Regions from separate parts of the Homo sapiens genome. Here all the other regions are linked to region 6. The links come from fine-mapping of genetic effects on gene expression. A gene starts in region 6. Each other region holds a variant in brackets. All regions are shown on one strand. Distances are between the middles of the regions. Region 1 overlaps CCDC125 (coiled-coil domain containing 125). Region 2 overlaps CCDC125 (coiled-coil domain containing 125). Region 3 overlaps CCDC125 (coiled-coil domain containing 125). Region 4 has its middle 23 kb from the start of OCLN. Region 5 overlaps CCDC125 (coiled-coil domain containing 125). Region 6 holds the start of CCDC125 (coiled-coil domain containing 125).

Evidence for each region.
Region 1: its variant is fine-mapped to the expression of CCDC125 in cerebellum (GTEx, PIP 0.96). The same link has a PIP of 0.9 or more in thyroid.
Region 2: its variant is fine-mapped to the expression of CCDC125 in whole blood (INTERVAL, PIP 0.95).
Region 3: its variant is fine-mapped to the expression of CCDC125 in whole blood (TOPMed, PIP 0.93).
Region 4: its variant is fine-mapped to the expression of CCDC125 in blood mononuclear cells (TOPMed, PIP above 0.99).
Region 5: its variant is fine-mapped to the expression of CCDC125 in blood mononuclear cells (TOPMed, PIP 0.91).

What each region holds. Positions count from the first base shown.
Region 1 is chr5:69,287,333-69,291,420 of GRCh38, forward strand. All of the region lies in intron 10 of CCDC125 (coiled-coil domain containing 125), which reads right to left. Among named protein-coding and RNA genes, the nearest start is that of CCDC125, 43 kb to the right of the region's middle. The variant C/T (reference allele first, on the strand shown) is at 1,911.
Region 2 is chr5:69,308,853-69,312,940 of GRCh38, forward strand. It overlaps CCDC125 (coiled-coil domain containing 125), which reads right to left. Exons shown (of 12, transcript NM_176816.5): 4 at 2,266-2,352. It also overlaps the pseudogene CFL1P5. Among named protein-coding and RNA genes, the nearest start is that of CCDC125, 22 kb to the right of the region's middle. The variant A/G (reference allele first, on the strand shown) is at 1,626.
Region 3 is chr5:69,300,562-69,304,649 of GRCh38, forward strand. CCDC125 (coiled-coil domain containing 125) reads right to left here. Exons shown (of 12, transcript NM_176816.5): 7 at 3,286-3,368. Among named protein-coding and RNA genes, the nearest start is that of CCDC125, 30 kb to the right of the region's middle. The variant T/C (reference allele first, on the strand shown) is at 1,672.
Region 4 is chr5:69,467,407-69,471,494 of GRCh38, forward strand. It overlaps the pseudogene RPS27P14. Among named protein-coding and RNA genes, the nearest start is that of OCLN, 23 kb to the right of the region's middle. The variant T/C (reference allele first, on the strand shown) is at 2,071.
Region 5 is chr5:69,278,143-69,282,230 of GRCh38, forward strand. CCDC125 (coiled-coil domain containing 125) reads right to left here. Exons shown (of 12, transcript NM_176816.5): 12 at 2,033-4,088. Among named protein-coding and RNA genes, the nearest start is that of CDK7, 45 kb to the left of the region's middle. The variant A/AC (reference allele first, on the strand shown) is at 1,701.
Region 6 is chr5:69,330,792-69,334,879 of GRCh38, forward strand. It overlaps CCDC125 (coiled-coil domain containing 125), which reads right to left and starts at 2,010. Exons shown (of 12, transcript NM_176816.5): 1 at 1,858-2,010. It also overlaps the pseudogene CHCHD2P2.

The sequences.
Region 1 (4,088 bases), 43 kb before region 6:
GGCTCACCACAACCTCTGCCTCCCGGGTTCAAACATTTCTCCTGCCTCAGCCTCCCGAGTAGCTGGGATTACAGGCTTGTGCCACCACACCCAGCCAATTTTGTATTTTTAGTAGAGACAGGGTTTCTCCATGTTGGTCAGGCTGGTCTCAAATTCCCGACCTCAAGTGATCCACCCACCTCAGCCTCCCAAAGTCCTGAGATTACAGGCGTGCCACTGCACCCGGCCATCAGTTTTTGGTGGTTTTTTTTTTTTGAGACAGGGTCTTGCTCCATCACCCAGGCTGGACTGCAGTGGTGGGATCATGACTCACTGCAGCCTCAGCCTCCCAGGCTCAAGCGATCCTCCCACTTCAGCCTCCCTAGTAGCTGAGACCACAGGTATCTACCACCACACTTGGCTATTTTTTTTTTTTTAATAGAGACAGGGTCTCCCTATGTTGCCCAGCCTGGTCTCAAACTCCTGAGCTCAAGCAATCCTCCTGCCTCAGCCTCCCAAAGCGCTGGGATTACAGGCATGAGCCACTGTGCCCTGCCTATATCAATTATTTAAAATTCTGCCTTCAGTCTCTCTCAGTGCCTTACTGGAACTCAGAGATTGGGAGCTATACCCCTCTGAATTGCATTTTTTGTGGGAATCTTCCTTAGATTTGTCAATAGCTGAATGTGATATTGTAATATAAGAAATATATATTTGGTCTTTGCCCTCAGTTCCTGACATAGAGCTCCTAAAATCCTAGTAGATAGGGGTGTTAGGTGAATCTTTTCTCATAGTTGGTCTTTGACCCCAGTTCCTAACACACAATTCTTAAGACTGTAATTTCCTCAGTGCTAGGAGCATCTGACACAGAGCCCCTAAATCCCTTGGAATTTCCTGGGTAATAGAAGCATCTTTTGTTCTAATGAGGCTCTTGATGGGCTCCTGGATAGCCTCAGGATGGGGGCTGGTTGCCAGGGGAACCAATCTTGTGATTAGAAAGCTGGAACTTTCAGCCCTAGCCCCCAAACTCCAGGGAAGCGAGAGGGGCTGAAGGTTGAGTTGATTACCAATGGCCAATGATGTAATCACCAATGGCCAGTGATGTACCGTGTCCATGTAATGAAGCCTCCATAAAAACCCAAAAGGGTCTGGGGAGCTTCCAGATAGCTGAGCATGTGAGGTTCCTGAGGGGTGGTACGCCAAAGAGAGCATCCCTTCCCACGTGCCTTGCCCTGTCCATCTCTTTATCTGGCTGTTCATCTGCATCCTTTGTAAGATCCTTTATAATAAACTGGTAAACGGAAGTGTTTCCCGGAGTTCTGTGAGGCATCCTAGCAAATCAATGGAGCCTGAGGAGGGCGTCATGGGAGTCCCAATGTACATACAGCCAGTCAGTCAGGAGCAGCAGAGACAACTCTGTGCTTTTGACTGGCATTTGGAGTGCAGGCCATCTTGTGGGACTGAGCCTTTAACTTATGGGATCTGACTCTAACTCCAGGTAGACAGTGTGAGAATTGAGGGAAATGATAGGATACCCAGCTGGTGTGTGGGGAATCCCCCACCCCTAGCATCTGGTGTCAGAAGCGCTGAGCTGAGTGGTAAGTGCTGTGTGAATAGGAAAACACTTTGGTTTCCCCTGTCTCTTACACTGTGGAAGGTAGGAATTATGGAACATCAAATGCACATATTCTCAAGTGCTGAAATGAGTATGAATCTAGCTCTTGAGAAAAATGCAGCTTTGTCTACACTGCACTATCCTAATGGCCAAGCTCCACACAGGGTTGCAGGCCTTGCAGGCAGGTGACAGGGTCTGACAGGCATTCGTAAGATTAAGATTACTTTAACCCTGACTTTCCCCTTCGTCTCTTCTTTTTCCCATCACTTTTCTTTCCACCTCTATCAAAACAAACAAATATTTACAATCTGACTTT[C/T]TAAGAAGATCTGCCTTCAATTAGCACAAAACACCAGGGCTGTCCTCAAAGAGGATTTTACAATCCAACTGCTATTAAGGGCTTAGCTGAGAGAGGAGGTGTCTGAGGAAGATTATCTACACATAGCTGTGGTCCGTGGTAGAACCAGGTATTCTTAGTGTTTTCCACTGGTTCCTAAAAGGCTAAATACATGGACCATGTTAGCTTTTTCCCTGGCAAAATCACCTAACCTGGATTGAACATTAAAGTTGTACCTTCAGCTTTTATGAAGAGTTTATTATAGAAAATGACCATATTATCTAAATACATTATTTTGTATTTATTATAAGACATTGTTGGCCAGGTGCAGTGGATCACATCTGTAACCACAGCATTTTGGGAGGCCGAGGAGGGAGGACCGCTTGAGCCCAGGAGTTTGAGACCAGCCTGGGTAACACAGTGAGACCTCATCTCTATAAACAAATACAAAATTTAGCCTGGCATGGTGGCACATGCCTGAAGTCCCAGCTGCTAGGGAGGCTGAGGTGGGAGGATTGCTTGAGCCCATGAGGTAGAGGCTGCAGTGAGTCATGATCACACCACTGCACTCCAGCCTGGGCAACAGGATAAGATGCTGCCTCAAAAAAAAAAAAAAAAAAGCTACTAAAACACTGTCGGGAATTTAGCCATTATATTTTCTCAAAAGTTTCGTGTCAGAAAACATTTTTAGAAATTAATTTCAAGAAAATATGAATGACTTTCTCAGAATAAGTGTTACAAAACATTATATTTTCCTGTTTTGTCCTGGCTTCCATCTAATGAACACTCCAAACATGTAGCTTCTATGATCTGCATTTCCCTACTCTGTAGTTCTGATTTACTGCTTCTATTTCTATCATCCCTCTGCATCACTTCTTACCCTTTTCAGCAAAGAAAAGGGGGAAAGCTTAGTTAATGAAACTAAAATTCACGACAGCTGACTCCTATACTATTAGTAATATATACTGTTTGAAAATAAATATTTCAAACAAAATGGCTATCTACTATAAAGCTTTCATTTTATTATTATTATTATTATTACTATTATTATTATTATTTTGAGACAGAGTCTTGCTCTGTCACCCAGGCTAGAGTACAGTGGCGCAATCTTGGCTCACTGCAACCTCTGCCTTCCAGGTTCAAGCGATTCTCCTGCCTCAGCTTCCCGAGTAGCTGGGATTACAGGTGAGTGCCATCACACCCAGCTAATTTTTGTATTTTTAGTAGAGATGGGGTTTCTCAATGTTGGCCAGGCTGGTCTTGAACTCCTGACCTCAGGTGATCTGCCTGCCTCAGCCTGCCAAAGTGCTGGGATTACAGGCCTGAGCCACCGCACATGGCCAGGTTTCTTTTTTTTTTCTTTTTTTTCTTTTTTTTTTTTTTTTGTTTGAGACAGTCTTGCTCTTTCCCCCAGGCTGGAGTGCAGTAGTGCAATCTTGGCTCACTGCAACCTCCACTTCCCAGGTTCAAGCAATTCTCCTGCCTCAGCCTCCCAAGTAGCTGGGACTACAGGCGCCTGCGACCAAGCCCGGCTAATTTTTGTATTTTTAGTAGAGGCAGGGTTTCACCATGTTGGCCAGGCTGGTCTCAAACTCCTGACCTCAAATGATCCACCCACCTCGGCCTCCCAAAGTGCTGGGATTACAGGCATGAGCCACGACGCCCAGCCAACAGGTTCCATTTTAAATATTTTCTATGATGGTGTTCCCCTAAGATCATTTTAAATATTACAAGATGTGTATTAGTCTTTCTAAATTCACCTGAATATAAGAGATGTTAGAATTATAGATCTGACAGATAAGAAAATATTTAGAAATACAGTCATCCTAGAATTTTTCTACAAAACATTTAAAATTCTTATAAACTTCACTTGATTCTTTCTCAACTGATAAATGGTTTCAAATTATAATTTGACATTTTAAACTGAAGCAATATGAATTCTACAGAATAATACTGATGAATAAAAATTGGTATGAACTACTTAGAGAAACAGATTTCTAAAAAATAACAGCTACTTTGTTCATACTGGAAGATCTACTTCAATTCTCTCATGCTATTTTAATATATTTTTTAATACACAGATATAATAATACTCAATACTGATCATTTTTTTTTTTTTGAGATGGAGTCTCATTCCGTCGCCCAGTGCAGTGGCGCGAT
Region 2 (4,088 bases), 22 kb before region 6:
AATGAAATCCAGGCTGAGGCGGTCTCAGATGGAGATGAGGAACTTGTTGGGAACTAGAGTAAAGGTGACTCTTGTTATGTTTTAGCAAAGAGATTTGTGGCATTTTGCCCCTGCCCTAGAGATCTGTGGAACTTTGAACTTGAGAGAGATGATTTAGAGTATCTGGTGGAAGAAATTTCTAAGCAGCAAAGCATTCAAGAGATGGCTTGGGTACTGTTAAAGGCATTCCATTTTAAAAGGGAAGCACAGCATAAAAGTTCAGAAAATTTGCAGCCTGACAATGCAATAGAAAAGAAAATCCCATTTTCTAAGGATAAATTCAAGCTAGCTGCAGATATTTGCATAAGTAATGAGGAGCCAAATGTTAATCCCCAAGATAATGGGGAAAATGTCTCCAGGGCATGTCAGAGACCTTTGCAGCAGCCTCTCTCATCACAGAGCCAGAAGTCTCGGAGGAAAAAATGGTTTCGTGGGCAGGGCCCAGGGTCCCCGTGCTGTGTGCAGTCTAAGGACTTGGTGCCCTGCGTCCCAGCCACTCCAGCGGTGGCTGAAAGGGGCCAAGGTACAGCTCCGTCTGTGAATATAGAGGGTGCAAGCCCCAAGCCTTGGCAGCTTCCACATGATGTTGAGCCTGCAGGTGCACAGAAGTAAAGAATCGGGGTTTGGGAACCTCCACTAGATTTCAGAAGATGTATGGCAATGCCTGGATGTCCAGGCAGAAGTTTCCTGCAGGGATGGGGCTCTCATGGAGAACCGGGGCTAGGGCACTACAGAAGGGAAATGTGGGGTTGGAGCCCCCACACAGAGTCCCTACTACAGCACTGCCTAGTGGAGCTATGAGAAGAGGGCCACCATCCTCCAGACCCCAGAATGGTAGATCCACCCATGGCTTACACTGTGCACCTGGGAAAGCCGCAGACACTCAATGCCAGCCTGTGAAAGCAGCCAGGAGGGAGGCTGTACTCTGCAAAGCCACAGGGGCGGAGCTGCCCAAGGCCATGGGAACCCACCTCTTGCATCAGTATGACCTGGATGTGAGACCTGGAGTCAAAGGAGATCATTTTGGAGCTTTAAAATTTGACTGCCCTGCTGGATTTTGGATTTGCATGAGCCCAGTAACCCCTTTGTTTTGGCCAATTTCTCCCATTTGGAATGGCTATATACCTACATCCCCATTGTATGTAGGAAGTAACTAGCTTGCTTTTGATTTTACCAGCTCATAGGCAGAAGGGACTTGCCTTGTCTCAGATGAGACTTTGGACTGTGGATTTTTGGGTTAATGCTGAAATGATTTCAGACTTTGGGGGACTGTTGGGAAGGCATGATTGGTTTTGAAATGTGAGGACATGAGATTTGGAGGGGCTGGAGTGGAATGATATGGTTTGGCTCTGTGTCCTCACCCAAATCTCATCTTGAATTGTATTCCCATAATTCCCACGTGTTGTGAGAGGGACCCAGTGGGAGATAGTTTGGATCATGGGGGTGGTTCCCCCATACTGTTCTGGTATGTGAATAAGTTTCATGAGATCTGATGGTTTTATCAGAGGTTTCCACTTTTGAATCTTCCTCATTTTCTCTTGCTGCTGCCACGTAGGAACTGCCTTTCACCTCCCACCATGATTCTG[A/G]GGCCTTCACAGCCATGTGGAACTGTAAGTCCAATTAAACCTCTTTTTTTCCCCCAGTCTTGGGTATGTCTTTATCAGCAGCATAAAAATGGACTAATACACCACCCAAATGTCCATCAACTGGTGAATGCATAAGCAAAACATGGTGCATCTACACAATGGAGTATTACTTGGCAATAAAAAGGAAGAAAGTACTGATACACGCTACGACATGTATGAACCTCTAAAACATGCTAACTAAAAGAATCTCAATGCAAAAGAATCCAGTCACATATCTTATGATTCTATTTATATTAAATAGAAAAGGCAAATCTACAAACAGAAAATAGATTACTGGGGATAGGGGTGGGAATGAGGAATGACTGCTGATGGGCACCAAGTCCCTTTTCTGGTGTTGGAAATATTCTAAAATTAGATTATAATGATGGTGGTACAACTCTTATATCTAGTAAAAATGAATTGTAGTGTACATTTACATGTGAACTTCAGGATATATAAATTATAAAGCTCTTAAAAATATACATACCTAAAAAAACCCTCAACTATATTAAGTCCTTCTGCCTTGGTTTTAAAAGTTAAAACCATACCAACATTATTATTGGAATGTGTAAATGGTGAAAGTTTAAAAACAACTTCTTACCATGCTTTGAAGAATTTTCAATGCTTCCTCTTTACCTCTGAGTTGTCTTTGAGATGCCTCAAGTTCAGTTTTTAACATTTCTACCTCCTGAGGACAGAAAGAAAATTAGTCTTCCTATCTGCAAGATATGCAACCCTAAAATTATCAGTTTGGCTAGTCTACATTTACCCTTGGCTCAAACCACTTACAAATGTGGCTGAAAATTCTTCTAGACTTAGTGAGTGAACCAGACATACTAAAATTGAAAGCCTCGGCCGGGCAAGGTGGTGTGACCTGTAATCCCTGCATTTTGGGAGGCCAAGGTGGGTGGATCACCTGAGGTCAGGAGTTCACGACCAGCCTGGCTAACATGGTGAAACCCCGTCTCTACTAAACATACAAAAAAATTGCTGGGCGTGGTGGTGCATGCCTGTAATCCTAGCTACTCTGGAGGCTGAGACAGGAGAATCGCTTGAACCCGGGAGGCGGAGGTTGCAGTGAGCCGAGGCTGAGCCACTGCACTCCAGTCTGGGTGACAGCAAGACTCTGTCTCAATTAAAAAAATAAAAAATAGCTGGGCATGGTGGCTCACACCTGTAATCCCAGCTACTCCGGAGGCTGAGGCATGAGAATTGCTTGAACCAGGAAGGTCTCTGAGACAGAGTCTCACTCTGTCACCCAGGCTGGAGTGCAGTGGCGTGGTCTCAGCTCACTGCAACCTCTGCCTCACAGGCTCAAGCAATTCTCCTGCCTCAGCCTCCCGAGTAGCTGGGATTGCAGGCATGTGCCACTACTGCCCAGCTAATTTTTGTATTTTTAGTAGAGACGGAGTTTCACTATATTGGCCAGGCTGGTCTCGAACTCCTGACCTCAAATGATCCACCTGCCTTGGCCTCCCAAAGTGCTGGGATTACAGGCATGAGCCACTGCCCCCAGCCTCAGTTGGCTTTCATGTTGTTTACATACTGAGGTTGTAGTTCCTTATGTAGGGACTCAAGGTGAGGAGGCAGCTGCAGGCCCCAATCCAATGACTAGTGTCCTTATAAATTGAGGGAAATTTGGACCCAGACTCATAGGGAGAAGGCCATGTGACAGGCAGAGGCTGGATTTCTGCAGCTACCAGCCAAGGAACACCAAGGATTGCAGCAAGCATCAGAAGCTAGGAAGAGGCAAAGGACTCTCCTCTAAAGCCTTCAGAGGGAGCACGGCCTGCTGAAACTCTGGTTTCAAACTTCAGCCTCCAGAACTAAAAGCAAACAGATTTCTGCTGTTTTAAGCCACCAGTTTGTGGTACATTGTCTCGGCAGCCAAATACAGTAGCTTTCACGGGAAGAGTCCCAAACACACAGTAAGGTGGGCTTCCTATTTCCCAAAGGACAGACACCCCTCGCAGAAACTGCTATTTCCACCAAGGCAGTGGGCTACTCAGGCCACCTGAGACTCTGGGCTTCTGACTTTAATGAGGTTAAATTAAGTCAGATTGTTTGAAGCCACACATACGGGGAAGGCCGGTGGAAGGAAGTGATAACTTACTTTCTCAAGGAGGAGATAAGAGAAGTGGGGTGGAAAGGAGAACCGGTGGGCATGTTTACATAAGTAGCTTCTTTTAAGAGATGAGGTGGATAAGAAACAGAGGAGGCCAGTTGAAAAAGATGAGCTCTCAAGTTCAGCAAGAATGTCTGGAAAGCCAAAATTTGCCTTCCACACAGATTTGGTACCATTTAAACAAAATATCTATCAATGGACTTTATTCACTTGAGAATTTTTTTTTTGTAATCGAAAGTCTCTTACTGGTCCTGCTTCCATGAGTAGCAGTGACCAGGGGAAAAGGGAGAGGAACCAGC
Region 3 (4,088 bases), 30 kb before region 6:
ACCAAACATTTAGAGAGGGGTCCTGCTGTCTACTGGAGAGCAGAAAACAGTATCTTTTCCCTGTCACTGCAGGGTAGAGTGGTAGGACAGAAGGGGAGGACTTATGATCATGAGCAGCTTCTGTCCTGAACTTATCTCACACAGGAGACATCTTTATCAGCTGGAGTCCCTGGTGCTGAGAAGCTCCAGCTGTGTGTGCAGATCTCAGCTGGAGGCGTTTATACAACTCAGCTAAGACACAGCATAAAGTGCCGCTCTCAGCCCCAGGGCCTAATTTAGAGCTTTTTTTGTCCTTTTCTTCTTTTTTCCTTTCTTTTCTTCTTTTTTTCCTTCCTTTTCTTTGTGTAAGAGACAGAGTCTTGCTCTGTCACTCAGGCTGGAGTGCAGTGGTCCAATCATAGCTCACTGCAACTTCAAACTCCTGGGCTCCAGGGATCCTCTCACCTTAACCTCCCAATCAGCCAGGAAGTTGCAGTGAGGTGAGATTGCGCCATTGCACTCTAGCCTGGGCGACAGAGCAAGACTCCCTCTCAAAAAAAAAAAAAAAAAACCAGGTGCATGCTACCATGCCTGGCTAATTTTTGTTTATTTTTTGTAGAGGAAGAGTCTCGTTATGTTGCCCAGATTGGTCTCAGACTCCTGGCCTCAAGCAATCCTCTCCCCTTGGCTTTCCATAGCACTGGCCATTACGGGCATGAGCAACAGCGCCTGGCTTGTGATTTGTCCTCTTCAAGCCACCTCTTTAATTTCTGCTAAGAAGGAAGAACTAGCCTCTTCTCTAAATTTTTAGGGCTGGGTGCAGTGGCTCACACCTGTAATCCCAGCACTTTTGGAGGCCAAGGTGGGAGGATTGCTTGAGCCCAGGAGTTGAGCCCTCACAAAGTGAGTCACCCCCATGTCTACAAAAATTTTTTTTTTAATGTTGCACTTTGGGAGGCCAAGGCGAGCAGATCACCTGAGGTCAGGAGTTCAAGACCAGCCTTGTCAACATGGTGAAACCCCGTCTCTACAGAAAGACAAAAATATTAGCTGGGAATGATGGCAGGTGCCTATAATCCCAGCTACGTGGTAGGCCAAGGCGGGAGAATCCTTGAACTCGGGAGGAGGAGGTTGTAGTGAGGTGAGATTGCACCATTGCACTCTAGCCTGGGTGACAGAGTGAGACTCTGTCTCAAAAAAAAAAAAGAAATCTGGGCATGGTGGTGGGTGTCTGCAATCCCAGCTACTCAGGAAGTGGAGGCAGGAGAATCACTTGAACCTGGGAGGCAGAGGTCACAGTGAGCCAAGATTGTGCCACTGCACTCCAGCCTGGGCGACAGAGTGAGATTCTGTCTCAAAATAATAATAATAATAATAATAATATATTTTTTAATTAGCTGGACATGGTGGAACATGCCTGTAGTACCAACAACTTGGGAGGCTGAGGTGGGAGGATCTCTTGAGCCCAGAAAGTGGAGGTTGCAGTGAACTGAGATTGTGTCACTGCACTCCAAACTGGGCAACAGAGCAAGACCCTGTGTGAAAATAAATAAATAAATAAACAAATAAATAAATAAAATATGTAAAAAGTTAACATCAGTTTGGACATGGTGATTCACACCTGTAATCCCAGCACTTTGGGAGGCCAAGGTGGGTGGATCATTTGAGGTCAGGAGTTTGAGACCAGCCTGG[T/C]CAACATGGTGAAACCCTGCCTCTACTAAAAATACAAAAATTAGCCAGGTGTGGTGGCAGGCACCTGTAGTCCCAGCTTCTTGGGAGGCTGAGGCAGGAGGATCACCTGAACTGGGAGGTGGAGGTTGCAGTAAGCCAAGATGGCGTCACAGCACTCCAGCCTGGGCAACAGAGTGAGACTCCATCTCAAAAAAAAAAAAAAAAAAAAAAAGGCCAGTCGCGGTGGCTCACACCTGTAATCCCAGCACTTTGGGAGGCTGAGGCGGGCGGATCACGAGGTCAGGAGATTGAGACCATCCTGGCCAACATGGTGAAACCCCTGTCTCTACTAAAAATACAAAAATTAGCTGGGTGTGGTGGCATGCACCTGTAGTCCCAGCTACTCAGGAGGCTGAGGCAGAAGAATTGCTTAAACCCAGGAGGCGGAGGTTGCAGTGAGCTAAGATTGCACCACTGCACTCCAGCCTGGCGATAAAGTGAGACTCTGTCTCAAAAAAAAAAAAAGTTAACATTAAATATCTTATTATCCTTGCATCAACTTTCATCGTAAGGTAGACCATTATATAAGAGATATATAACATATAAATTATATACACACATATATATCATTTCTACTTAGGTTCTTCAAATATCAGGTGCTCTACCATTTTGCTTTAAGTGAAAACTAAATAAAAAGGAGAAAATGGGGAGAAATTGCTTAATAGGTAGGAGATTTTACTTTGGAGTACTGGAACTGTCTGGAACTAGACAGAGGTGGTGGTTAGGCAACTTTGTGAATGCCACTGAATTGTTAACTTATTTTTTCGAGACCGAGTTTCGCTCTGTCACCCAAGCTGCAGTGCAGTGGCACAATCATGGCTCACTGCAGCCTCAACCTCCTGGGCTCCAGCAATCCTCCCACTTCAACCTCCCAAGTAGCTGGGACTACAGGCCAGTGCCACCACATCTGGCTAATTTTGGTTTTTCTGTTGTTGTTGTTGTTTGTTTGTTTGTTTCTAATAGAAACAAGGTTTTGCTATGTTGCCCAGGCTGGTCTCAAACTCCTAAGCTCAAGTGATCCTCCTGCCTTGGCCTCCCAAAGTTCTGGGATTACAGGCATGAGTCACTGTGCCTGGCAAGAATTGTTCACTTTTTTTTTTTTTTTTTTTTTGAGATGGAGTCTCACTCTGTTGTCCAGGCTGGAGTGCAGAGGCACAATCTTGGGTCACTGCAACCTCGGCCTCCAGAGTAAAAGCGATTCACCTGCCTCAGCCTCCTGAGTAGCTGGGACTACAGGTGCGCACCACCATGTCTCGCTAATTTTTGTATTTTTGGTAGAAATGGAGTTTCATTATGTTGGCCAGGCTGGTCTTGAACTCCTGACCTCAGATGATCTGCCCACCTTGGCCTCCCAAAGTGCTGGGATTACAAGAATGAGCTACTGTGCCCAGCCAGGAATTGTTCACTTTTAAATAGTTTTATGTTATGTGAATTTCACCTTGATAAATTTTCTTAAATTTAAAAAACCTAAATGATACATTTCTCCCCTCTATTATACTTAATGTATATTATTTCAAAATACTAGCATGTTATCTTTATTGATACATGTGCTCTTAATACAAAAATCATCATTACCTGCATTGTCAGACTTCAGCATTTTAATTTCTTCTGTTTTCACTTTCAAATTCTCTTTGAGGACTGCATTTTCACAGTTTAGCCTGGAAAAAAGTGGCTTTCAAATAACTAAAACATTAATATTTCCTTGCTGAGCGAGAATATTTTTATTGCCATAATTGGAACACAAAAATCTAAATATAGTTTTTCCTACTTCAAAATAGTCTGGAATTTACACGTATCACAAAAATAAAAACAATTTAAAGGAATGTGGTAAGAATTTTTTTTTTTTTTTTTGAAATGGAGTCTCACTCTGTCGCCCAGGCTGAAGTGCAGTGGCACAATCTCAGCTCACTGCAACCTCCACCTCTTGGGTTCAAGTGATTCTCCTGCCTCAGCCTTCCAAGTAGCTGGGATTACAGGTGTCTGCCACCACACTTGGCTAATTTTTGTATTTTTAGTAGAAACGGGATTTCACCATGTTGGCCAGGCTGGTCTCGAACTCCTGACCTCAAGTGATCAGCCCGCCTCAGCCTCCCAAAGTGCTGGGATTACAGTTGTGAGCCATCATGCCCGGCCAGGATTTTAAACATACCCTTTTTTTTTTTTTTTCTTTTTGAGACGGAGTCTTGCTCTGTTACCTAGGCTGGAGTGCAGTCATGTGATCTCGACTCAGTGCAACCTCCGCCTCCCAGGTTCAAGTGATTCTCCTGCCTCAGCCTCCTGAGTAGCTAGGATTACAGGCGCCCGCCACCACGCCCGGCCAATTTTTGTGTTTTAGTAGAGAAGTGGTTTCATCATGTTGGCTGGGCTGATCTCAAACT
Region 4 (4,088 bases), 140 kb after region 6:
CTATCCAAGTACTGGGATTATAGGCCTGAGCCACAGCAGCTGGCCCGCATCATATTTTATCATTTAAATAATATTTAATTAAATCATACACATACGTACACACATGTAGTAGCAAGTACAAGTGGGAATAACAGGTTTAGGTACAACACAACTATTGCTAACCACCCATCTCCACTATTGAGAGCAGAAGTAGTGTTCTCTAGAAACAGGCCTTCTAGGGTGCTGAGGTCATCATAAGATGCTTAAACTGAGCTTGTATGTTTCAGAATTAGCTGATATTTTTTAAATGGTCTCTTATTAAGTAAATAACTATCAAATTTCATAAGATATGAATTTGAGGACTGAAACTGTATTAGTCAGAACGGCTTTGGTTTCTAATAACAGAAACTCAAATCAGCTTATGCATACAAGGGACTCTTTTGAATTAGAGAACTGAGAAGTTTAGGAGCTGACTTGGCTTCAGGGTTCCCTTTCAGTCTGTTTCTCTCATCTTCACTGCTTCTCACAGCATATTTAGTCTCATGCTGTCATGTTTAGACTTTCTCTGTGTAACTGCGGAAGATGCCTGGTGTCAGCTCCAGTACATAAGCACGTAGTGGGTTACAGGGAAGTGGCTCTCTTCCAGCAGCTTTCTATCATGTCTCTGGAAGCGTCTGATAGGTCTTGGTTTGGGTTATGTGTCCATCTTTGAACCTATCACCACATCAGATGAGGCAGCCTGGATCTCATATCCGCTAATGTGTGGGCAGAACACAATCCCGTCAGGACCTCATGGAATGGAAGAAAGATAAGGTTTTTTTTTCTTTTTCTTTTTCTTTTTTTTTTTTTGAGATGGAGTCTCACTCTGTTGCCTAGGCTGGAGTGCAGTGGTGCGATCTTGGCTCACTGCAATCTCTGCCTCCCGGGTTCACGCCATTCTCCTGCCTCAGCCTCCAGAGTAGCTGGGACTACAGGCGCCTGGCACCACGCCTGGCTAATTTTTTTGTATTTTTAGTAGAGACGAGGTTTCACCGTGTTAGCCAGGATGGTCTTGATCTCCTGACCTCGTGATGCACCCACTTGACCTCCCAAAGTGCTGGGATTACAGGCATGAGCCACTGCGCTGGGCTGAAGAAGGGTGAGTTATAAATGAAAAGCTGCATGTGTGCTCTAATAGAAGCTAGACATGCAAAAACCACAGATGCCTCCAGCATAGACCATGCTTTTGTTACCATAATAGCAGGTATTCAGTCTAAGTCCTGCTCCTCATAGCACAGAAAACCAATCACTGAGACAATGAGTATTGCCAAGGAAGAAAGCTTTAATTGGGTGCTGCAGCTGAAGACATGGGAACTAGTCTCAAATTCATCTCCTGACTGACTATAATTAGGGGTTAATCTAGCAGGGAAGAAATGTAACTATGCATGGGAAAACAGGAACTCAACTTGAGAGGGGTAAGGAAGCAATCATGATGAATGAAGGGCCTGGTGTCTCATTGTCTGGATGCAACGATCTGGTGAGTTTCAGTTCTTTTTCTTCAGGTACTTTTTGAGAGGCTTTTGAGGGTCCTTTCCTGAGGAAGGAACTCAGATAATACAAATGTAAGGTTCAAGCTTAAGACCAGAACTGTCTATGGGACTATTGAGTTGGTTTCACCTTAGCTATTCTTTAATTCCCTCCTAAGACCAAGCCCATGGAAGCAGCTTGCCCTTAAATATTGAATGGCTCAACTGCTAGTAGCACTTTATTCTTCCAAACATTTTCACAGACTGATAAGGTTTGGATGTTTTGTCTCTTCCAAATCTTATGATGAAATGTGATCCCCACTGTTGGAGGTGGGCTAGTGTGAGGTGTTTGGGTCATGGGGGCAGATTCCTCATAAATGGGTTAGTGCTGTCCTCACAATAATAAGGGAGTTCTCGCTCTGAGAGCTCTTGAGAGCTCTGGTTGTTTAAAAAAGTGTGGCACCTCCTCCACCTCCACCACTCACTCTCACCATGTGACATGTCTGCTCCTGTTTTGCCTTCTGCTATGAGTAAAAGCTCCCTAAGGCCTCACTAGAAGCCAAGCAGATGCTGGTGCCATGTTTCC[T/C]ATACAGCCTGCAGAACGGTGAGCCAATTAAACCTCTTCTTTTTCCTCTCTCCTTTTTTTTTGAGACGGAGTTTCACTCTTGTCGCCCAGGCTGGAGTGCAATGGTGCAATCTCAGCTCACTGCAACCTCCGCCTCCCAGGTTCAAGCGATTCACCCGCCTCAGCCTCCCAAGTAGCTGGGATTACAGGTGCCCGCCATCACGCCCAGCTAATTTTTGTATTTGTAGTAGAAATGGGGTTTCACCATTTTGGCCAGGCTGGTCTTGAACTCCTGACCTCAGGTGATCCGCCCACCTCGGCCTCCCAAAGTGCTGGGATTACAGGCGTGAGCCACTGTGGCCGGCCACCTCTTTTCTTTGCGAATTACCCAGTCTTTTTCCAGCGGTGACGACCTACCCAGGAGAACATGCCTCTCACAAAGGATCTCCTTCATCCCTCTCCAGAATAGGGGAAGAGGAAACACAAGAAGCAGTGCCTGATGCAGAGCCCCAATTCCTACTTCATGGGTGTAAATGCCCAGGATGGTACAAAATCATCACAGTCTTTAGCCATGCACTAACAGAAATTTTGTGTGTTGGCTGCTCCACTGTCCTCTGCCAGCCTACAGAAAGAAAAGCAAGGCTTACAGAAGGATGTTCCTTCAGGAGGAAGCAGCATTAAAAAGCACTCCGAATCAAGATGAGTGGGAAATCATCTCAATAAACACTTTTTTTTTTTTGAGACTGAGTTTCACTCTTGTCGCCCAGGCTGCAGTGCAGTGGTGTGAGCTTGGCTCACTGCGACCTCCGCCTACCAGGTTCAAGCAATTCTCCTGCCTCAGCCTCCTGAGTATCTGGGATTACAGGCATGCGCCACTATGCCCGGCTTATTTTGGGGTTTCATCATGTTGGCCAGGCTGATCTTGAACTCCTGACCTCAGGTGATCTGCTCACCTCGACATTCTAAAGTGCTGAGGTTACAGGCATGAGCCACTGTGCCTGGCCTCAATAAACACATTTTGGATAAAAAATAAATAAATTACCCAGTCTCTGATATTTCTTTATAGCAATGCAAATGGACTAACACAGAGACATTATTGTGAGTGGTAAAGGCAGATTAAATGTCTTGCTTAGAATTACACAGCTGCTACTTGACTTCAAATTATACTATGAGACTACAGTAACCAAAACAGCATGGTACTGGTACCAAAACAGATACATAGACCAATGGAACAGAACAGAGGTCTCAGAAATAACACCACACATCTACAACCATCTGATCTTTGACAAACCTGACAAAAACAAGCAATGAGAAAAGGATTCCCTATTTAATAAATGGTGCTGGGAAAACTGGCTAGCCATATGGAGAAAACTGAAACTATACCCCTTCCTTATAGCTTATACAAAAACTAAGTCAAGATGGATTAAAGACTGAAACATAAGACCTAAAACCGTAAAAACCCTAGAAGAAAACCTAGGCAATACCATTCAGGACATAGGCATGGGCAAAGAGTTCATGACTAAAACACCAAAAACAATTGCAACAAAAGCCAAAATTGAGAAATGGGATCTAATCAAACTAAAGCGCTTCTGCACAGCAAAAGAAACTATCATCAGAGTGAACAGGCAATCTACAGAATGGGAGAAAATGTTTGCAATCTATCCATCTGACAAGGTCTAATATCCAGAATCTACAAGGAACTTAAACAAATTTACAAGAAAAAAACAAAGAACCCCATCAAAAAGTGGGCAAAGGATATGCACAGACACCTCTCAAAAGAAGACATTTATGCAGTCAACAAACATATGAAAAAAAGCTCATCATCACTGGTCATTAGAGAAATGCAAATCAAAACCACAATAAGATACCATCTCATGGCACATGTATACCCGTTAGAATGGTAATCATTAAAAAGTCAGGAAACAACAGATGCTGGAGAGGATGTGGAGAGAAATAGGAATGCTTTCACCCTGTTGGTATGAGTGTAAACTAGTTCAACCATTGTGGAAGATAGTGTGGCGATTCCTTAAGGATCTAGA
Region 5 (4,088 bases), 53 kb before region 6:
AAGTGCTGGGATTACAGGCATGAGCCACTACACCTGGCCAGAGGTTCCCTCTTAAAAATTCACTTTATTTTATTTTTTTTTGAGATGGAGTCTCGCTCTGTCACCCAGGCTGGAGTGCAGTGGTGCGATCTTGGCTCACTGCAACCTCCACCTCCTGGATTCAAGCAGTTCTCCTGCCTCAGCCTCCCAAGTAGCTGGGGTTACAGGTATGTGCCACCACGCCTGGCTAATTTTTTTTTTTTTTGTATTTTTAGTAGAGATGGGGTTTCACCATATTGGCCAGGCTGGTCTCGAACTCCTGACCTTTTCATCCACCTGCCTTGACCTCCCAAAGTGCTGGGATTACAGGTGTGAGCCACCGCGCCCAGCCAATACTTCACTTTATTTCTATTTTTTCCTTTTCACTTTCCCCAGAGGGAAATGACTCTATGAAATTGGTGTGTATCTTTCCATGATTTTATGCTAGTATTCTGTAAGAGTGCATGTAGTGAGATGCATAACAATGTACAGCATTGTTTTGGGTCTCAAAATTGTATATAAATTGATAGAATCTCTCTCTCCTTTTTTTTTTTTTTTTTTTGTGAGATAGTCTCTGTTGCCCAGGTTGGAGTGTAGTAGTGCAATCATGGCTCACTGCAGCTTCGAACTCCTGGGCTCAAGCCATCCTTCCACCTCTGTCCCCAGTAGCTGGGACTACAGGTGCATACCACCATGCCTGGTTAATTTTTTTTTTTTTTTTAATGAGACAGAGTCTTGCTCTGTTGCCCAGGCTGGAGTGCAGTGGTGCAATCTCAGCTCACTGTAACCTCTGCATCCTGGGGTTCAGGTGATCCTCCTACCTTAGCCTCCCAAGTAGCTGGGATTACAAATGTGTACCACCATGCCCAGCTAATTAAAGTAACACAAATGTATTAGCTCACAGTTCTGTAGGCCATATATCTGGCTCAGCTGTGTTTTCTGCTTAGGGTCTCACAAGGCCAAAATCAAGGTGTTAGTCAAACTAGTTTTATTTGGAGGCCCCTGGAAAGAATCTGCTACCAAGCTCATGCAGGTTTGTTTTTTTTTTTTTTTTGGAGATGGAGTCTTGCTCTGTCGCCCAGGCTGGAGTGCAGTGGCACGATCTCGGCTCACTGCAACCTCCGCCCACTGGGTTCACCCATTCTCCTGCCTCAGCCTCCCGAGTAGCTGGGACTACAGGTGCCCGCCACCACGCCCAGCTAATATTTTGTATTTTTAGTAGAGACGGGGTTTCACTGTGTTAGCCAGGATGGTCTCTATCTCCTGACCTCGTGATCCGCCCACCTTGGCCTCCCAAAGTGCTGGGATTACAGGCGTGAGCCACCGTGCCCGGCCGCTCATGCAGTTCTTATAGTTGCAATTCTTGTGCTCCATTGCCCCCATTTCCCTTTTGACTGTTAGCCCAGGGCCTCTCTCAGCTTCTTAAGGAAACTTCCATGCCTTTGTCCTGTGGCACTCACCACAGGACAGCAGCAGTGCATCAAACCCACTCGTGCTTCAAATCTGTCTGACTTCCTCGTGTGTGTGTGTAGACAGGGAGCTGCCAAGGGAGAAGCAGCCAAGCAGCTAAGAGTCCAGGAGATAATAGCGCCAAAGGGATCTGAGGACACTCAAAATGTGTCTAACACGTGAGGCAGGATAGGAGTGTATTATTCCGTTCTCAAACTGCTATAAAGAATACT[A/AC]CCCAAGACTCAGTAATTTATAAAGGAAAGAGGTTTAATTGACTCATAGCTCCACATGGCTGGGCAGGCCTCAGGAAACTTACAATCCTGGCAGAAGGGGAAGCAGGCATGTTTTACATGGCAGCAGGAGAGACTACCATGTATAAAACCATTGGATCTCGTGAGAACTCACAATCATGAGAACAGCATGGGGGATACCACCCCCATGATCCAGTCACCTACCACCAAGTCCCTCCTTCAACATGTGGGAATTATGGGGATTACAATTCAAAATAAGACTTGGGTGGGGACACAGCCAAACCGTATCAGGTAGTCAAGGAAATGACCATTTTCTCATGACCATACAGCCAACACAATAAACCTCAGCATTCACATTGTAATTGAGCTCATTTAAGCAAAGCTATCTTCAGTAGGGACTTTCCCTTCTAGAGAGCATACACATTTTGATTTTACCTGTCCTCAAACTGATCCTTTGCACATGATAATAATAAAAAACACACCTCTAGGTGGAAATTTAAGATGCTACTGAGACATGTGGTGTATGAACAAGCATTAACAGCTACTGCACCTGTGCAGAGGACCACCCAGGACATGATTACTGCAACACCTCACCTCCTTATGAATAATAATGCAAAACTCCCATAAAGGGAGTTTCTCCAGCAATAATCAATGCTGTCTCACCCTTACGAGCAGCCGGCCCTGAATTCTCTCTCTCAGGTGTACTGTCTGTTCTGCACCTAACTTTCAAAATACTCCTTTTCTTTTGCAATAAATTATGCTGCATCTCCTTTGCTGTCTCATTTAAATTCTTTTAAACCAAGAAGACAAGAACTGAGGTATCACAACAGCTGTCAACACATGCATTTTGCTTTATTCATTTGCTTTATCTTATGGATCTCTCCATTTTGTAGAGTATTCCATTGTATAGCTGTACAGTAATTTAGATAAACTTTTGTATTGATAGCCTTTTCTTTTGGAGATGGGGGTCTCACTCTGTCACTCAGGCTGGAGTGCAGTGGCACAATCACAGCTCACTGCAGCCTCAAGCTCCTGGGCTCATGCCATCCTCCTGCCTCAGCCCCTGAGTAGCTGGGACAACAGGTGCATGCCACCATGCCTTGCCGAGTTTTTGTATAGATGGGGTTTCACCATGTTGCCCAGGCTGGTCTTGAACTCTGGACTGGTCTGGACTTGAGATTCAGACCAGATCTGTAAGCCACTGCACCCGGCCTTGATAGCCATTTGTTTTCATACACAGCAGCAATTAGTAGCCATTTAAGATATCTGTGCGCCAGCCTACAAGAAATACAAATGTACAGGGTAAAATCCTAGCTGGATCAAATATGAGCTTTGTAAATTTTTAAAAACTTTTTTATTGAGTTGTGGTTTATGCCTGTAATCCCAGCACTTTGAGAGGCTGAGGCAGGAGGATCCCTTGAGGCCAGGAGTTTGGCACCAGCCTGAGCAACACAGTGGGACCCTGTCTACACACACACCCCACCCCCACACACCCCAATTCACATACCACAAACAAAAAAACTCCTAGAAATCACCTTGGCTCAGGCAGCTTCTTCAGATTCCTGAGACCCCATTTCCTGGATCATCACAACCATCTCACAGGATGCAATGAAAAGAGCTGTTAAGCACTTTGTAGACTTGGCTACAAATCTGTGCAGATTTGGTTGCAAAATGTTACTACCCTGACAAGAAGCCATGAACGCAGCCGGCACTGACTCAATATACTTCTGCCAAGGTCCCACCATCAAAACTGTCTTATTGAAGTTAACTTAAGGAAATTGTTATTTCTAAACTTCATATGGTAAATGAAAAATACTGAACAAGGCAAATAAAACAAGATAAATGAATTCCAGAAATTAACATTCAGTCAGTCCTAGGTATTGTTACTTTTTAGAGCATTAAGATACATTGCTATATTGTTGATTTAGCCAAGCTAAGATCCCTATAGTCAATCAAAATAGTTAAATAATTTTTTGTTTTTCCCAAAAATCATTATTTTTTGTTTTAGGATGTTGGCAAACACTGTAATGTGTTTTTTTTTTTTTTTGAGACAGAGTTTCGCTCTTGTCGCCCAGGCTGGAGTGCAATGACACAGTCTCGGCTTACCACAACCCCCGCCTCCCAGGTTCAAGCGATTCTCCTACCTCAGCCTCCCAAGTAGCTGGGATTACAGGCATGCGCCACTAGGCCTAGCTAATTTTTTGTATTTTTAGTAGAGATGGGGTTTCTCCATGTTGGTCAGACTGGTCTTGAACTCCAGCCTCAGGTGACCCACCCACCTTGGCCTCCCAAAGTGCTGGGATTTATAAGCATGAGCCACCATGCCCAGCCTGTAATGTAATTTATAAATACAGTAATGTAATTTATAAA
Region 6 (4,088 bases):
TGCACATTAATTTCACTGCCCTGGTGGAACGTCTCTTTAATTCCCCAAGGCTAGCCTGATAATTTCCTAATTGGTCTACTTCAAGCCAACCTACATACTGCTGCCAAGTCAATAATATCCAAGTGCAAACCGAATGATGTCTCTCTCTTGCTGTAAAACATTCCATGGCTCCCATGGCATGTATAATTGTAGTCAATGTCACCCTGTTTTCCTTTTTAAAAAAAATGTAGGCTGGGCACAGTGGCTCACACATGTAATCCGAGCACTTTGGGAGGCTGAGGCGGGCAGATCACCTGAGGTCAGGAGTTTGTGACCAGCCTGGCCAACATGGTGAAACCCCGTCTCTACTAAAAATACAAAAATTAGCCAGGTATGGTGGCGGGCGCCTTTAATCCCAACTACTTGGGAGGCTAAGCAGGAGAATCGCTTGAACTTGGGAGGTGGAGGTTCCAGTGAGCTGAGACAGCACTATTGTCTGTCACCCACGCTGGAGTGCAATGGTGCGATCTCGGCTCACTGCAACCTAGACCTCCTGGGTTCAAGCGATTCTCCTGCCTCAGCCTCCCCAGTAGCGGAGATTACAGGCGCCCACCACCATGCCCGGCTAATATTTGTATTTTTGTAGAGACGGGGTTTCACCATGTTGGCCAGGCTGGTCTAGACCTCCAGACCTCAGGAGATCTGCTCACCGGTCTCCCAAAGTGCTGGAATTACAGGCGTGAGCCACTGCGCCCAGCCGAAACTCCGTTTCAAAAAAATAAAAATAAAAATAATGTATCCAACTGAAGTGTCACCCTGTTTTCTACAACAAAGCTACAGTTTTCACCTCCAGTTTCATCTGGCAGTACTCCCTGGATGTACTCTGCGCTTCCACGTAAGAGGAACTGCACTTGCTCCCAGGGCTCCTCCCTCAGCTCAGCTTGGTCACCTGCAAGCCTCTATTGGTGCCATTCTTCACCCCAGGAATGCTGTTTCTTCTCAGAGCCCCCTCAGTTCAGGACAGCACTCCCTCCAGTAGCCTTCCTGACTCCCTTGGACCAGATGTGATTTCTTCCACATCTGAGTCTTCCCAGTTCTGGGAGGTTTTACTGAATCTTTTTAATAGTGCTTACTTCCTACCTGACCTAGACTGACTGTATATTCCCTTATGCAGAGACTTTGTGTGTCTCGTTTGCTTATGCACAACATGTGTTCCAAAGATATTTGACAGAATCGAAAGAGAAAACCGATTCCTGCCCGGAAACCTTTGGACAGAAGAATCTACATTCAGTAGCCTGACAACTCTGCCTTAGCAAACAAGTTGGTCAAACATGCCTAACTCCATGACAAAGAGGAACTAACTTGAGCCCTCCCTGGTGAACAATGGCCTGCTGCACTTTGCTTTAGGATTTTGTTTCTTAACTTTTCATTTTAGAATAATTTTAGATGTACAGTAAATTGCAAAGATAGTACTAAGAATTCCTGTGTACCTTTTACCCAAATTCCTCTAATGTCAACATTTGTGTACAATTTGTCGAAATTAAGAAATTAACATGGGTACGTGCTATTAACTAAACCACAGCCTTTATTATTTTTTCCACTAATGTCTTTTTCTGTTTCAGGATCCAAACCAGGATACTGGCGCTATAGTTTTATAAGGCTCAAAATTAACAGAAGAGAAAAAAAGTAAAGCAGGTGGAGAGGCAGAGAGAGAAATAGGGTCTCTGAAATCTATTTCTTATTTTTTTCTTATCAGACGAGGCCATTAAACTGGCATTCAGGGAAAAGGATTTGGGCAGTTTGTCCACAACCTGCAGAGTTTCCACGAATCTGCGCATCCCGCCCCTGCCCTGGGTCCTCCCCACTCCCGGTTCCCACCTGCCAGGTCTGACCCCGGGTACCCTCTCAAGGTCCGTGGCGGGGACCGGAGCCCGGACTCCAGCTCAGCGAACAGCACCCTCCTACCGCCCCGGCGCCCCACTCAGCTCGCTCACCTGGCAAGTAGCCTCCTCTCCGTGCGCGTGCGCCGCTGCCGCCGCGCGTCCTCCGGGCCACCACGTGACCGCGTGGGCGCAGTCCCAGACAGGAAACGCCGGTGAGGTCGCCCTGGGCCATGGAGGCAGCTCGCGCTACTTTTTCGCGACCTCACTGTGTTCCTGTGTGCAACCTGATGTTAGCTCTGTCCACCTTCAGCTCCAAAGCCAACCACGGGTAACCAATATGCAAACAATGACATGAGATTTAGAAAAACAACAAGACGGGGCCTGTGTCAATACAGGTAAAATTTGGTGGTTCAAACATTGAGGTTCAGACCGGCGCGGGGTTTCACACCTGTAATCCCAGCTTTTGGGAGGCCAAGGCGGGAGGATCGCTTGAGGCCAGGAATTCGAGACCAGCATGGCCAACATAGTGAGACCCCGCTCTACAAAAAATTTAAAAAGTAGGGCTGGGCGCGGTGGCTCACGCCTGTAATCCCAGCACTTTAGGTGGCCGAGGCGGGTGGATCACGAGGTCAGGAGATTGAGACCATCCTGGCTAACACAGTGAAAACCCTTCTCTACTAAAAATACAAGAAATTAGCCGGGCGTGGTGGCGGGTGCCTGTAGTCCCAGCTGCGCAGGAGGCTGAGGCAGAATGGCGTGAACCCGGGAGGCGGAGCTTGCAGTGAGCCAAGATCGTGCCACTGCACTCCAGCCTGGGCAACAGAACGAGTCTCCGTCTCAAAAAAAAAAAATAATTAAAAAGTAGCGGGTGTGGTGGTGCGTACCTGTAGTCCCAGCTACTCAGGAGGCCGGGAGGCCGTCAGGTGGGAGGATCCCGTGAGCCTGGGAGATCCAGGCTACAGTGACCACTGCACTCCAGCCTGGGCGACGGAGTGGAGACCCTGTCTCAAAAAAGAAACAAACCAAAACCAAAATATTAAGTCTCTAGGAATCCTGTAAGAGAAGGGTAGATCGGGCCAGGTGCGGTGGCTCACGCCTGTTAACCCAGCACTTTGGGAGGCCAAGGTGGGTGGATCACCTGAGGTCAGAAGTTTGAGACCAGCCTGGCCAACATGGTGAAACCCCATCTCCACTAAAATACAAAATTTAGCCGGTCGTCACACGTCCGGAGGCCGAGCCGTCGCGTACCTAGGATGCCGCGTGGAAGCCGAAGCCGCACCTCCCGCATGGCCCCTCCGGCCAGCCAGGCCCCCTCAGATGAGAGCTGCACCCAGGCCAGTACCAGTCGTTCAGCCACCAGCAGCGGCACCCCCATCTGTAGTTGGCTCTTCTGCTGCTGCGCCCCGGCAGCCAGGTCTGATGGCCCAGATGGCAACCACTGCAGCTGGCGTGGCTGTGGGCTCTGCTGTGGGTCACGCCATTACTGGGGCTTTCAGGGGAGGAAGTAATGCTGAGCCTGCGAGGCCTGACATCACTTACCAGGAGCCTCAGGGAACCCAGCCGGCACAGCAGCAGCAGCCTTGCTTCTATGAGATCAGTTTCTGGAGTGTGCCCAGAACCAGGGTGACATCAAGCTCTGTGAGGGTTTCAATGAGGTGCTGAAACAGTGCCGACTTGCAAACGGATTGGCCTAATCAAGAAGTTCAACCTGGAGAGATGGAAAATCAGCTCTCATAACTAAGTTAATTTAGTATAAAAATAGAATTGATAGTGAGGGTATAAAGTGTAACCATGAGTTAAACCTCTCCTGTCATTCCTAGCTTCCTTGCTTCAGAATTGAAATGGAAGGGGGGTGTTCCTACTCTGTAGAATCTGTGACAGGGCAAATGTTTGTGTGGCCTCCTTAAACTAGCTGTTATGATTTTATTCTTTGTGAGTTAATTAGAATAAAGTCATTTTCTTCCAAAAAAAAAATTAGCCGGTCGTGGTGGCAGGTGCCTGTATTCCCAGCTGCTTGGCTGAGGCAGGAGAATCTCTTGAACCCGGCAAGCGGAGTTTGCCGTGAGCCGAGATCGCGCCACTGCACTCCAGCCTGGGTGACAGAGCAAGACTTTGTCTTAAAAAGAGGAGGTGGGGGTGGGAGAGAGAGAGAGAGAGAGAGAGAGAGGGAGAGGGAGGGAGAGAGAGAGAGAGAGAAATCTAAGCTGAGGTTCAGAGGTAGAGGCA